Linked DNA regions of Homo sapiens. The protein of the gene in region 2 purifies or fractionates together with the protein of the main gene of each other region. This does not show direct contact. Each region holds a gene or a part of one and is shown on either strand. Other genes may lie near its edges. The genes, in order: TIMM50, ZNF571 and HERC1.

Region 1 (3,650 bases), 1.9 Mb from region 2:
TGGCTTCAACAAATCAGTATGCTGATTTAAATTGGGCAGGTACATCTGCAGTTTTAAAGTGTATATGTTTACTAGCCTAACTGGTTTCAATATTGTGGTTTATTTTTATTTTTATTTTTTTTTGAGACATAGTCTTGCTCTGTTGCCTAGGCTGGAGTGCAGTGATGCAATTTTGGCTCACTGCAACCTCCACCTCCTGGGTTCAAGCATTTCTCGTGCCTCAGCCTCCCGAGTAGCTGGGAGTACAGGCGCACACCACCACACTCAGCTAATTTTTATAGTTTTAGTAGAGACAGGGTTTCACCATGTTGGTCAGGCTGGTCTCGAACTCCTGACTTCAGGTGGTCACTCGCCTCAGCCTCCCAAAGTGCTGGGATTACAGGCTTGAGCCACCACTCCTGGCCCAATATATTGTGTTTTTTTTAAGAGGCAGGCCCATGTATTGCACTAAAAATACTGTATTAAAGTAGGTAGCCTTGTAAGTTTACTGTTTTATACTGGATTCATTAGCCGGGAGTGGTGGCCTGTGCCTGTGGTCCCAGCTACTCAGGAGGCTGAGGTGGGAGGATCACTTGAGCCTGGAAGTTACAGGCTGCAGTGAGCTGTGATCCCGCCACTGCACTCTAGCCTGGATGACAGAGTGAGTCTCCATCTCTAAAAAAAAATAAGTTAAAATGAGAAAGTAAACTGGAGTCAATATATTCACTTAAACCAGGGTTTTTCACCCTTGGCCCTATTGACGCTTTGGACCAGATAATTATAGAGGACTGCCCTGTGCATTGAAGGATTTTTGCAGCATCCTGGGCATCTGCCTACTAGATGCCAGTATTGCGATAACCGGTTATATCTCCCGGCATTGCCAGATTTCCCAGGGGTAGGCAGATAGACAAAATTGTTCCTAGTTCTGAACCACTGTTTTATGGTATATGGATGTGTTTATATATTTATTGTGGTTTAGATTCAGCACACTGGATTAAAGTGGGCAGATCTGGAAGCCTAGTGATTCAAAGTGGGCAAAATACAGTGGCATAAATTAGGTGTGGTGGCTCACGCCTGTAATCCCAACACTTTGGGAGGCCAAGGCGGGAGGATCACTTGAGCCCAGGAGTTCAAGACCAGCCCGGTCAACAGAGCAAGACCCTGTCTCTATTAAAAAAGTATGTATACCCTGGTGTAATGTCAGCAGATTTACATGTATGTGGGTTTTGTTTTGTTTTTTTTTTTTCTGAGACGGAGTCTTACTCTGTTGCCACGCTGGAGTGCAGTGGTGCAATCTCGGCTCGCTGCAACCTCCACCTCCCGGGTTCAAGTGATTCTCTTGCCTCAGCCTCCCAGGTAGCTGGGACTACAGGCACATGCCACCACGCCCGGCTAATTTTTTTTTTTTTTTACTGTTTTAGTAGAGACAGAGTTTCACCATGTTGGCCAGGATGGTCTTGATCTGACCTCGTGATCCGTCTGCCTCGGCCTCCCAAAGTGCTGGGATTACAGGCGTGAGCCACCGTGCCCGGCCTTGTATGTGGGTTTTAAGTGGGCCAATGTAATAAGCATTCTGTTTCATACCTGGGGTAGTATGTGGATATAAGTATCAGCTTAAAATAGGGCAAGTAAATAAATCTGTGTTCCTATCTGGCGGTATGTCATTGCCTTCTATCTTTGGACCTAGAAATGAGTTGGTTCAAACCAGGCAGATATGCAGACCTGTTTGTATCTGGTAGATAAGAAACCCCTGGTTTGTCTGGGAGGTTGAACAGCGGCTTATTGTGGAATCTCTTTGTGCCTGGTGTTCTCCTAGATCCAATTCTGGTACAGCAGTTGCGCCGGACATACAAATATTTCAAAGATTATAGACAGGTGAGCAGAAGCCCTGGGCTCAGTCCCCATGTCTCCAGCCCTGGCCTCCTTGTCTGAGCGCCCCCATCCTGTCCCTCTCCCACAGATGATCATCGAGCCCACCAGCCCTTGCCTTCTCCCAGACCCTCTGCAGGAACCGTACTACCAGCCACCCTACACGCTCGTTTTGGAGCTCACCGGCGTCCTCTTGCATCCTGAGTGGTCGGTGTGTCCCGGGAAACCCAGTGGGTTGGGGATAGACCTGGGCAGTGGGGTTGTGATGAGGTGGACTTTCAGCCCTGGCTGTGCTATGTGATCTTGGGGAGGAGATGTCACCTGTCATTGCCTCGCTTTCTTCAGCTGGGAGAAGGCAGTCATGCTAACACCCACTCTGTAGGGTAGTGTAGGTGTGCCCAGGCACGCTATAAGTGCCACAAAGGAGCCAGACCCGCAGTCACAGCCTATGAACTTCTTGACCTCCAAGAGCCACAGAGACAGAGGGAGAGAACTCTGTTCTGGGAATCCCCCAGGCTGGATCTTTGTCCTCTTGGGGACTCTGAGGACCTCTGGGTCTTGGTGTTTCACTGTCCTCACTGTCTTCCCAGCTGGCCACTGGCTGGAGGTTTAAGAAGCGCCCAGGCATCGAGACCTTGTTCCAGCAGCTTGCCCCTTTATATGAAATTGTCATCTTTACGTCAGAGACTGGCATGGTGAGGCTCTGGGGCAGGGGAGGGAATATTGGTGTGGTGGGAGGCGTAGAGATCTGGAGGACCAGGGCTCAGCCTGACCTTTTCTCGCTCCCTTCCCACCCCCAGACTGCGTTTCCACTCATTGATAGTGTGGACCCCCATGGCTTCATCTCCTACCGCCTATTCCGGGACGCCACAAGATACATGGATGGACACCATGTAAAGGTGCCGTGGGTTCATGGGTGGGCCTCTGGGATTTGGCGGAGTTGGCACCACCTGAGGGAAGGAGGGCCCAGCTCTGACCCTAGCCTCACCTGGCTTATGGTTCTGCCCAGATTCGATTCCTGCTGGCAGGCACATGCCTGCCTCTAGCCTTGGCCAGACATCTGCACCCTTCTTTGTTCCCTGGAATCTGGGTGTGGGAGTGGGGGGAAATGGGGTCTCTCTAAAGAAGACAGTTGGGGGTTAGTGGTAAGGTCGTACGATTTAGAAGCTGGTTTTATCTTGCTGTGTCTGTAACTTAGTGTTTCTGGGAAGGTTTGCTTATAGTTGTACATATGAGACTGGTTGGGGTTTGTTTGACCCGGGCTCTGTTACTGTGGCCAGTGCTGTATTCAGGAGTCCGGATCTGCGAATGGGCCTCTGTGGGTCTGGCTCCAAGTGTCTGTGTGTCTGTTGGTTTCTGTCTGTGTCGTGTCGGGGTGGGGGTTCTGTGTTGCTCTTGGAAATTCCAAAATACGTGGGCTGTGATCGAGGGTCTTGAAGGGTCTGTGTCTGGGTGCCTGTCTGTGTGGTTCCCTGGGTGTGGCTGCAGATCTGTCTGCACCTGTTTACTTGAGTGAGAGGTTCTTAAACCTGCAACATACCACAGTCACCTGGGCAGGGGTTAAACACGAGAGTGGCCACCTCCCTCTCCAGGGAACTTCCTAATCACCTCTCTGTGTGCTAGGCCCTGGGTCTAGAAGTCTATGTGATTAGCTCCCCAATATCCTGGGGGTTGTTTTGTTTTTTGTTTCTGAGACAGGGTTTTGCTCTGTCACCCAGGCTGGAGTGCAGTGGTGTGATGAACATGGCTCACTGCAGTCTCAACCTTCTGGGCTCAAGCGATCTTCCCACCTCAGCCTCCTG
Region 2 (4,291 bases):
TATATAACTGTTAATGAATGGGCCAGGCGCGGTGCCTCACACTTGTAATCCCAGCACTTTGGGAAGCTGAGGTGGGTGGATTACTCGAGGTCAGGAGTTGCAGACCAGCCTGGGCAACATGGTGAAACCCCGTCTCTACTAAAAATACAAAAATTAGCCAGGTGTGGTGGCACATGCCTGTAATCCCAGCTACTCGGGAGGTTGAGGCAGAAGAACCTTTTGAACCTGGGAGGTGGATGCTGCAGTGAGCTGAGATCACACCACTACACTCCAGCCTGGGCGACAGAGTGAGGAAAAAAAAATAAAGAATGGATCTTGGTATCAATCATAAGTGGACGTTATAACCTTTAGGTCAGTGCTTCTCAATCCTTCTAAAATTTTTCACGGTCATATCCCTAGGAACCTTTTTAGATACTTTTCTCTAATAGCCACCACTCTCATGAAATTTTATTACCATAGATATACTGTATATATGTTTATGTACTGTGGCCCTTTGGAGGACCACAGATCATTGTAATACCTATGAGTTTTTGTCCTCTTCCTTCTCAAAAACCAAGTTTCACCCACTTGGAAGGTGATATCCTCCACCCTCATTGAGAATGCATGCTTTAGGTGAAAAAAAGGAAAGGATTAAATGGACAGCATTTAAACACATCAATATGACATCACTGAAAGTGGGACATCAGACTGTAAGGGCCTCATGATGTGATGTAATAGGAAGTACACAGCACCAACTATGAATTAAAGGTGATTTAGGGAAAATCTGATCCAAATTCCATCAAACCTCTAGATCTAACTGCCTGTTTACAGAAATATGAAGGAACGGAAAACAAATTATAAGACAGTACAAAGAAGCAATTAGCTAAAAGCAGTATACAGAATATTCTACGGGACAGATGATCTAGTTTTTCTACAAATCAACAGCACCAATTAAACCAAAACAAAACACAGGAGGGAAACTATCATGCATTAAGTAAGTTTAACAGGTTTGGCCACCAAATGCAATGTGTGGACTCTATCTGGATCCAGATTTGAACACACCTATTGTAAAAATATGTCTTTGAAATAATTGGGAAAATCTGAATATGGGGGTATACAAGATTATGAAATAACCACCACGCTGTTACACCAACATAAGAAACAAATTTATTGTTTTAAACTTATTGTTAGTTTTTTTTTTTATGTTGGTATAACAGCATCATGGTTATTTTAAAATATAATGTCCTTTTTGGTAATATATGCTTATAAGAGGATAAAATACAATTTTGAAATACTATAGGAAAAAACGGGGAAGGATTGATACAAAGGTATTTACAAATGTTTTTAATTACAGCTAGGTGTTGAACATGTTGGGGTTCGTATTATTCTTTAGCCTGCTTGAAAACATCCACAATAAAGTTAAAATTTTAAAACTCTTCAAATTTCCCCCAGAAAGTACAGTTATTTTTCATCAAAACCTTAGACCAGGCCAGGCGCGGTGGCTCACGCCTGTAATCCCAGCACTCTGGGAGGCCCAGGCGGGTGGATCACGAGGTCAGGAGATCGAGACCATCCTGGCTAACACGGTGAAACCTCGTCTCTACTAAAAACACAAAAAATTAGCCGGGCATGGTGGCGGGCGCCTGTAGTCCCAGCTACTCGGGAGGCTTAGGCAGGAGAATGGCGTGAACCCGGAAGGCGGAGCTTGCAGTGAGCCGAGACCGCACCACCGCACTCCAGCCAGGGCGACACAGCGAGAATCCGTCTCAAAAAGCAAACAAACAAACAAAAAAATCTTAGACCAGAAAGGACTGCTGTATCATTGGGTGGAAAGGAGAGGTGTAGTGTGGCTGGGGAGTAGAGCTAAACTGATGATCCCATCCCCGCAGCATCATTTATGGGGTGCCTAAGGACCAGTCACTAGCATGGCTGGTTCTTCCTTAGGAAGATGTTGCTGGAGGTAGAAAACGTTTCGGAAAGGAAGAAATTTGAGGTTAGAAAGAAAACAGGAACTTCACACAAGACTTTCAGAAGTGCGATATTCTTTTCCTCTGGGTGCCTCTCTTGGAAAACGCAGAACCGAGAAAAGAAATAAGCATCATAGAACATCAGAGCTCTCGGAGCAGACGAAACAATTTAGGATAACACCAACCTCTAGAAAGGGATTAGTCTTCCCCACAGGGCTGTCAAGCTAGAATAGGACATCTTTAACAGTGGTCTTCTTCCTAAGACACTTCCAGGGGTAAAGCCTCACCATCAGGGAAACTTCAAAAAGAGCCTCTTACTCTGCAAAGAAACTGCAGCAGCTGTAACCGCACGATTCTCAGCTGGCTTAATGATGTCCGTGTCACACGAGGAGTACTGCGGCCCGGGAGGGGCCAAGCGCTAGGAGCATTAACAGGCGGCAGGTGAGCCCACCCCGCGGCCGCACAAGCGCACACGCACACGTCCAGGGCGGAGGAACACTACTAGTAACACCCGCCTCCTTCTAGCCTCCCTATCCCAAAGTTATGGTGCCGATTTTGTCCGCGGCAGGGGCTCCAGGGGCACACTCATAAATTCGGTGCGGAGGAACACAACTAGCAGCACCACACCCCCGCCACTGCCAGAACCAAAGTGACGGTGCCGACACCCCTCCGCAAGCGCAAGGCCGACTTCCATAAGTAATTAGCCAGAGCACCGTCCCGTTCCTGTCAGCACCGAGCCCCAGCCAGGACACCGGTATTCCCAGCACCATACAAGAACTACTTTTTCGATGAAGCAACCCAAAAGCTGCGAGCGGTTCCCGGTGAGGCCGCCCACTCACCTGGCCGGCGCAGACAAGCTCCGTGCGTCAAGACATAACAGCGTAAGTGTACGACGTTGCGCAGCGACGCGGGGGCCTTCGGGAAATGTAGTCTACAACTGGAAACCGGCCGGATCGTGTCTGCGCAGGCCCAGCAGCTAAGATCGGGTCCGGCGCTCCAGAACAGAACGATCCCTGAGGCTCCCTTGCTCGAACTGTGGGACTTACCCTACTATGGTCCGAGCCTACCCTATTTCATTATACTCAAGTAACGCCCCAGAAATTCCAGAGAATCTCACACAAAGAGGTTGAGTCTTGCCGTGGTGCCTTCAGGGGAATGTCATCCCGGGCTAGAAGAGCTGCAAAAGGCTGTCAGGTAAGGTCTGGATTTCTCTCTGACAGCTCTGGCCGTGACGCAGTGGCCACGATACCGGGTTGCTGCTCAACGGGGTTCGGAAGTGTGACGCATTCTTTGCGGCCATGTGTGTGTGTGTGCGTGTGTGTGTGGGTCTGTGCGCGCGCGTGTCCGAGTGTCCTCTGTGGGTGCAGAGTGGGTAGTGGCCATGCCTGTGTGATGTGCGTCAGATTATGCTTGAGGCTATTAGTGGCGCATTTAGTATTGTGTGCGGAAGGGTCTTGGGAATGGTTTGATTATAGCTTTGAGGGTGACTGATGTCTGTTTAATCAGATTCAGCCTGCGACTGAGTATCTTATAACCTGTAAGAAATTGATTTTTCTTTGCATGGTCATGAATTTAAAATAGATTCCCATGAAATTATATAAATGTAGTGAATGATTCATTGAGAGTTCGCCTGTGGCAGTGAATGTGGGGAAAGAAGTGTGTGAGCATAATATGGTGAGAATGAGCACGATTGTGTGCAGCGCTGTATTATAGTGATATCTCCTGGCTTCAGTTTTCTCACCTGTAAAGTGAGGGTGTCAGTCGTGTAACGCTTTGGAACAATGCTTTTTAATAGGAATTTCTGCAAAACTGAGTTCCATTTTTTATATCTGTGCTCTCCAATATAGTAGCCACTAGCTACATATGGCTATTGAGAAATTGAAATGTGGCTGGTTTGACTGAGGAACGAATTTTTTAAATTGTGTTCAATTTTAATAAATCTAAATGTAAACAGCTATATATGGCTAATAGTCTTCCTATTGAACAGTACAACCTGGAGCATTAATTTGCCTTCAAGATTTGAAGGGGGTAAAAACTTAATTCATCTAGCAAATATTTGAAAATGAAATTCTTAAAACTTCCTTAAATTTTTTTTTAAATTTGAGATGATTGTAGATTCATATGAGGTTGTAAGAAATAATAGAGACATTGTGTGTTATCTTCAACTTAGTCTTCTCCAATGACAACATCTTGCAGGACTGTAGTATAATATGACAACCAGGATGTTGACATTGATAGTCAAGATAGATCATTTCCATCACCTCGAGGATCTGTTGTGTTGCCCTTTTATAGACAAATGCACTTTCTTCCCTCTTGTTTGAAGATATTCGCGTCAACATTAATGA
Region 3 (3,650 bases), on a different chromosome or scaffold from region 2:
CTGGATTGGCCTACCTGGGTGTGTGTGACTGCAGCGGGGGCTGCTCTGACTTATTTTCCTGCCCTCCTGTTCATATAGCTTACTAACAGCAGCCTTGCCTAGAGTTGAAACACTCTAAAAAGTCTTTTATCTCATCCTGAGGTTTGGGGATTTAAAGTTATGAGGTTACTTTGATACCTACAAACTAATAAGGAAAAGTCTCTCTTGCTTTCTCTGTGGGATTTTATTGTTTCTCTCCCCAGACAAGATGAATAGAGTCATACTGTGGTAATATTTGATTCTGATGTCAAAGATAAATTACAAAACAAGCATCAGGTTCCAGTAGACGTTGACAGGTTATATAACATGGCTGCTGTGCTCACATTGCTATCTGAATGCATGTTCTTCTCCTTCATAGGTTCCATTTAATCAATGTAATGCCTTATTCTAGGAACCAGTGCTCACCTAGATCTTGTAAATACCTCCATTTAGGGGCAAGGTACATGGTGGATTTGTATATACATTGGTTAGCATTACATTTTTGTAGTAGGGAGACCAAAAAGCTCATAGATGTAAGTCCTACAGGAAAGAGAATCTGCTATATAAATAAGTGAATCATAATGATTTTTCCCAAAAATTCATAAAGTAGGTATGCATTTTGTGACCAGATGAAAATTAGTTCTTTTCACTAGTGGAGTTTTTTTTTTAAAAAGCCTCATTTTGAGATAGGACAGATTGTCATGTTCATTAACTCTTCTCAGTAGGATACTCAGTTACTTGTATTATTGATATAACTTATTAGAGTGAGAGAGGGCAAAGAACACCTTCCGATTGTGTTATCTGAATTCTGATTTGAAAGAAATTTTTTATTTAGCATTAATGAACATGTTGGAAATATTCTAGCATATGTAATAAAGTAATTTAATATAAATAATCTACTTGGTACTTCTTGGTTTTATGTTAAATTGACTAATCATTTGGTATGAAATCCTTTTGTGCAGCATGTTTGTGAGTCTGAAGACAGGGAAGAAGTGGTGGTGTGTGAACTGTGTGAATGCAGCGTCGTCAGCTTCAATCAGCACATGAAGAGAAACCATCCAGGCTGTGGGCGCAGTGCAAACCGCCAGGGCTATCGCAGCAATGGTTCCTATGTGGATGGCTGGTTTGGCGGTGAATGTGGGAGTGGAAATCCGTACTACCTGTTATGTGGCACCTGCAGGGAGAAGTACTTAGCCATGAAGACCAAATCTAAGTCAACAAGTTCTGAAAGGTACCTTGAAATTGTGTAGATATCCAGACCTCCTGAAGATACCTCATACCTTAAGTCTTGGGAACTGTAGATTTTTCACGTGAGGAGTTACATTTAACCTTCCCTGAAATCCCGTGATTCTTACACTTTGGGCAGAAGGGATGGAGGGGTTTCAGAAATTCATGTTCCCAGGAATAATGGCATAGCAACATATCCTTCCCTGGAGTTTGACTGTGTTAACCTCTGACTTGTTGGCAAGTAATGGTCAGGACCCTTGCCTTAACCCTCAGGAGGCTTCTACTCAATTCTTTTCATTTGTATTTTCTACCATATTTCTGGCATTTTAATTAAGATCTTTTTCCTGATGAAAAAAACAGACTTTTGATTAAACGAGTTCCATAAAAATATTATCTCTTTACATCCTTAATCCCTAGAGAGTAGGTTTGTTGCCCTTAATTGTCAACTATTAAAATCTTTAAGGCTTTATGGAATAGAATTTGGTTAAAAGAGTTGTTTTAGGTAACCCAGAAATCTCCCCAGTAGTTTGGTAAAATAATCATTGATTTTGTAAGCATGTGTGTACCTACATACCAGCAGTTTTTATTATGTTAGCCTATAACATGAAACATACTTTTTTATTTTGTGCTGCTTTATTAATGACCTCTTAAAATGTTCTAATGACTTAATTTGCATCTTGGGGTACTAACTGTTTTATATAAAAATGCAATGTTCTTCATGTTTGGTGCAGGTACAAGGGACAAGCTCCAGATCTAATTGGCAAGCAAGACAGTGTGTATGAAGGTAGTTTGTTTTGAGAGCTTCTTTATTTTACATGTTTTTTTATATATCCTCTCTGCTTAACATCTGTTACTAAAATTCACCTTCGTGTGTGTGTGTGTTTGTATTTGTGTACATGTTAACTTAAATTTTCCCTTAAAAACTCAAGGGAATTTAATAGCAACAACGCTGGTTTAAAAGTCAAAGGAAAAGAACGTGGTTTCAAAGACCAACTTTACCACAGAATATTAATTTCTATTAGGTGTATTTTTTTTTCAAAGTAGGGAAAGGATGTGGTATATTTTGAATTTCCACCCTAATTGTGGAAAGTAAAAAATAAATAGAGATGAGCATTGATTTTTCTGGAGCACTCATTTTCTTGAAATAACTCATTCCCTAATGATTACAGACAGCTAAGAACTCTTTGTTGGACCCATGACAATATTTTTAATTAGTTTAAACCTCTATTACCAGCTGTAGCATTTGCTATTGCTGTCAACTTATTTAACTACATTGACTCCCTTTCCCTGAGAGTCTCACTTATGCTTCAGGAGTGCAGTTTGGTTAAGTTTTCAGGAGATGGTGCCATAGTTCATTATGTGGTCACTGGACTTTCAGTCCATCTGCATTTTATGTATGTATGTATTTATTTATTTATTTATTGTTTTTATTTCTTTGAGATGGAGTCTCACTCTGTTGTCCAGGCTGTAGTGCTGTGGCGTGATCTCAGCTTACTGCAGCCACGGCCTCCCAGGTTCAAGCAATTCTCCGGTCTCAGCCTCCTGAGTAGCTGGGATTACAGGCACACACCACCATGCCTGGCTAATTTTTGTATTTTTTGGTGGGGATGGGGTTTCATCATGTTGGCCAGGCTGGTCTCAAATTCCTGACCTCATGTGATCCAGTCGCCTCGGCCTCCCAGAGTGTTGGGATTACAGGCGTGAGCCATCGCATCTGGCTGCTCATCTGCATTTTAGATGTATTTTCAGAACAACCATTGCCAGCAGATTTATGTAATATTTAAATTCACATACTATACATTTATTTATTTAAATTCCAGAAGACTGGGACATGTTGGATGTTGATGAAGATGAAAAGCTAACTGGTGAAGAAGAATTTGAATTACTTGCTGGACCGCTTGGTTTAAATGACCGGCGCATTGTACCAGAACCAGTTCAGTTCCCTGACAGCGATCCACTGGGAGCATCAGTAGCAATGGTCACAGCCACCAACAGTATGGAAGAGACTCTGATGCAAATAGGTAAACTGAAATCCTGATTTGCATTGATTTTATAGCATCTACTATAATTTGTTTCTTAGATAGGTAAATAATAATAATAAAGTAAAAGTAAATAAGACTAATGGTTCAACATTATCTCACCCCAACAAGTCTCTTTAGCCAGTTGTTTTAACATTTTGAAGGTATAATGTGGTATTAAGTTTTGGCTGGGCTTGGTGGCTTATGCTCGTAATCCCAGCACTTTGGAAGGCTGAAGAAAGAAGGTCGCTTGAGGCCAGCAGTTCAAGACCAGGCTGGGCAACATGGTGAGACCCATTTCTATTAAAAAAATGAAGAAAAGTAGCTGGGTGGGTGGTGTGCACCTTTAGTCCCAGCTACTCAGGAGGCTGAGGCAGAAAAATTGTT

What was found.
Region 1: the proteins of ZNF571 (region 2) and TIMM50 purify together in Homo sapiens (co-immunoprecipitation; one large-scale study listed by IntAct). This does not show direct contact.
Region 3: the proteins of ZNF571 (region 2) and HERC1 purify together in Homo sapiens (affinity purification with mass spectrometry; 2 studies listed by BioGRID and IntAct, with this or other methods). This does not show direct contact.

The regions. Positions count from the first base shown.
Region 1 is NC_000019.10:39,483,749-39,487,398, forward strand, and holds part of TIMM50 (mitochondrial import inner membrane translocase subunit TIM50), read left to right. Parts: exon of another isoform or gene 1-1,042; intron 1,043-1,498; exon of another isoform or gene 1,499-1,628; intron 1,629-1,795; coding exon 1,796-1,854; intron 1,855-1,939; coding exon 1,940-2,059; intron 2,060-2,438; coding exon 2,439-2,543; intron 2,544-2,648; coding exon 2,649-2,747; intron 2,748-3,650. UniProt on the Homo sapiens protein: Essential component of the TIM23 complex, a complex that mediates the translocation of transit peptide-containing proteins across the mitochondrial inner membrane. Has some phosphatase activity in vitro; however such activity may not be relevant in vivo.
Region 2 is NC_000019.10:37,591,956-37,596,246, forward strand, and holds the start of ZNF571 (zinc finger protein 571), read right to left. Parts: upstream 2,838-4,291; 5' UTR 2,786-2,837; exon of another isoform or gene 2,132-2,785; intron 1-2,131. UniProt on the Homo sapiens protein: May be involved in transcriptional regulation.
Region 3 is NC_000015.10:63,659,352-63,663,001, reverse strand, and holds part of HERC1 (probable E3 ubiquitin-protein ligase HERC1), read left to right. Parts: coding exon 1-18; intron 19-980; coding exon 981-1,249; intron 1,250-1,976; coding exon 1,977-2,029; intron 2,030-3,065; coding exon 3,066-3,266; intron 3,267-3,650. UniProt on the Homo sapiens protein: Involved in membrane trafficking via some guanine nucleotide exchange factor (GEF) activity and its ability to bind clathrin. Acts as a GEF for Arf and Rab, by exchanging bound GDP for free GTP.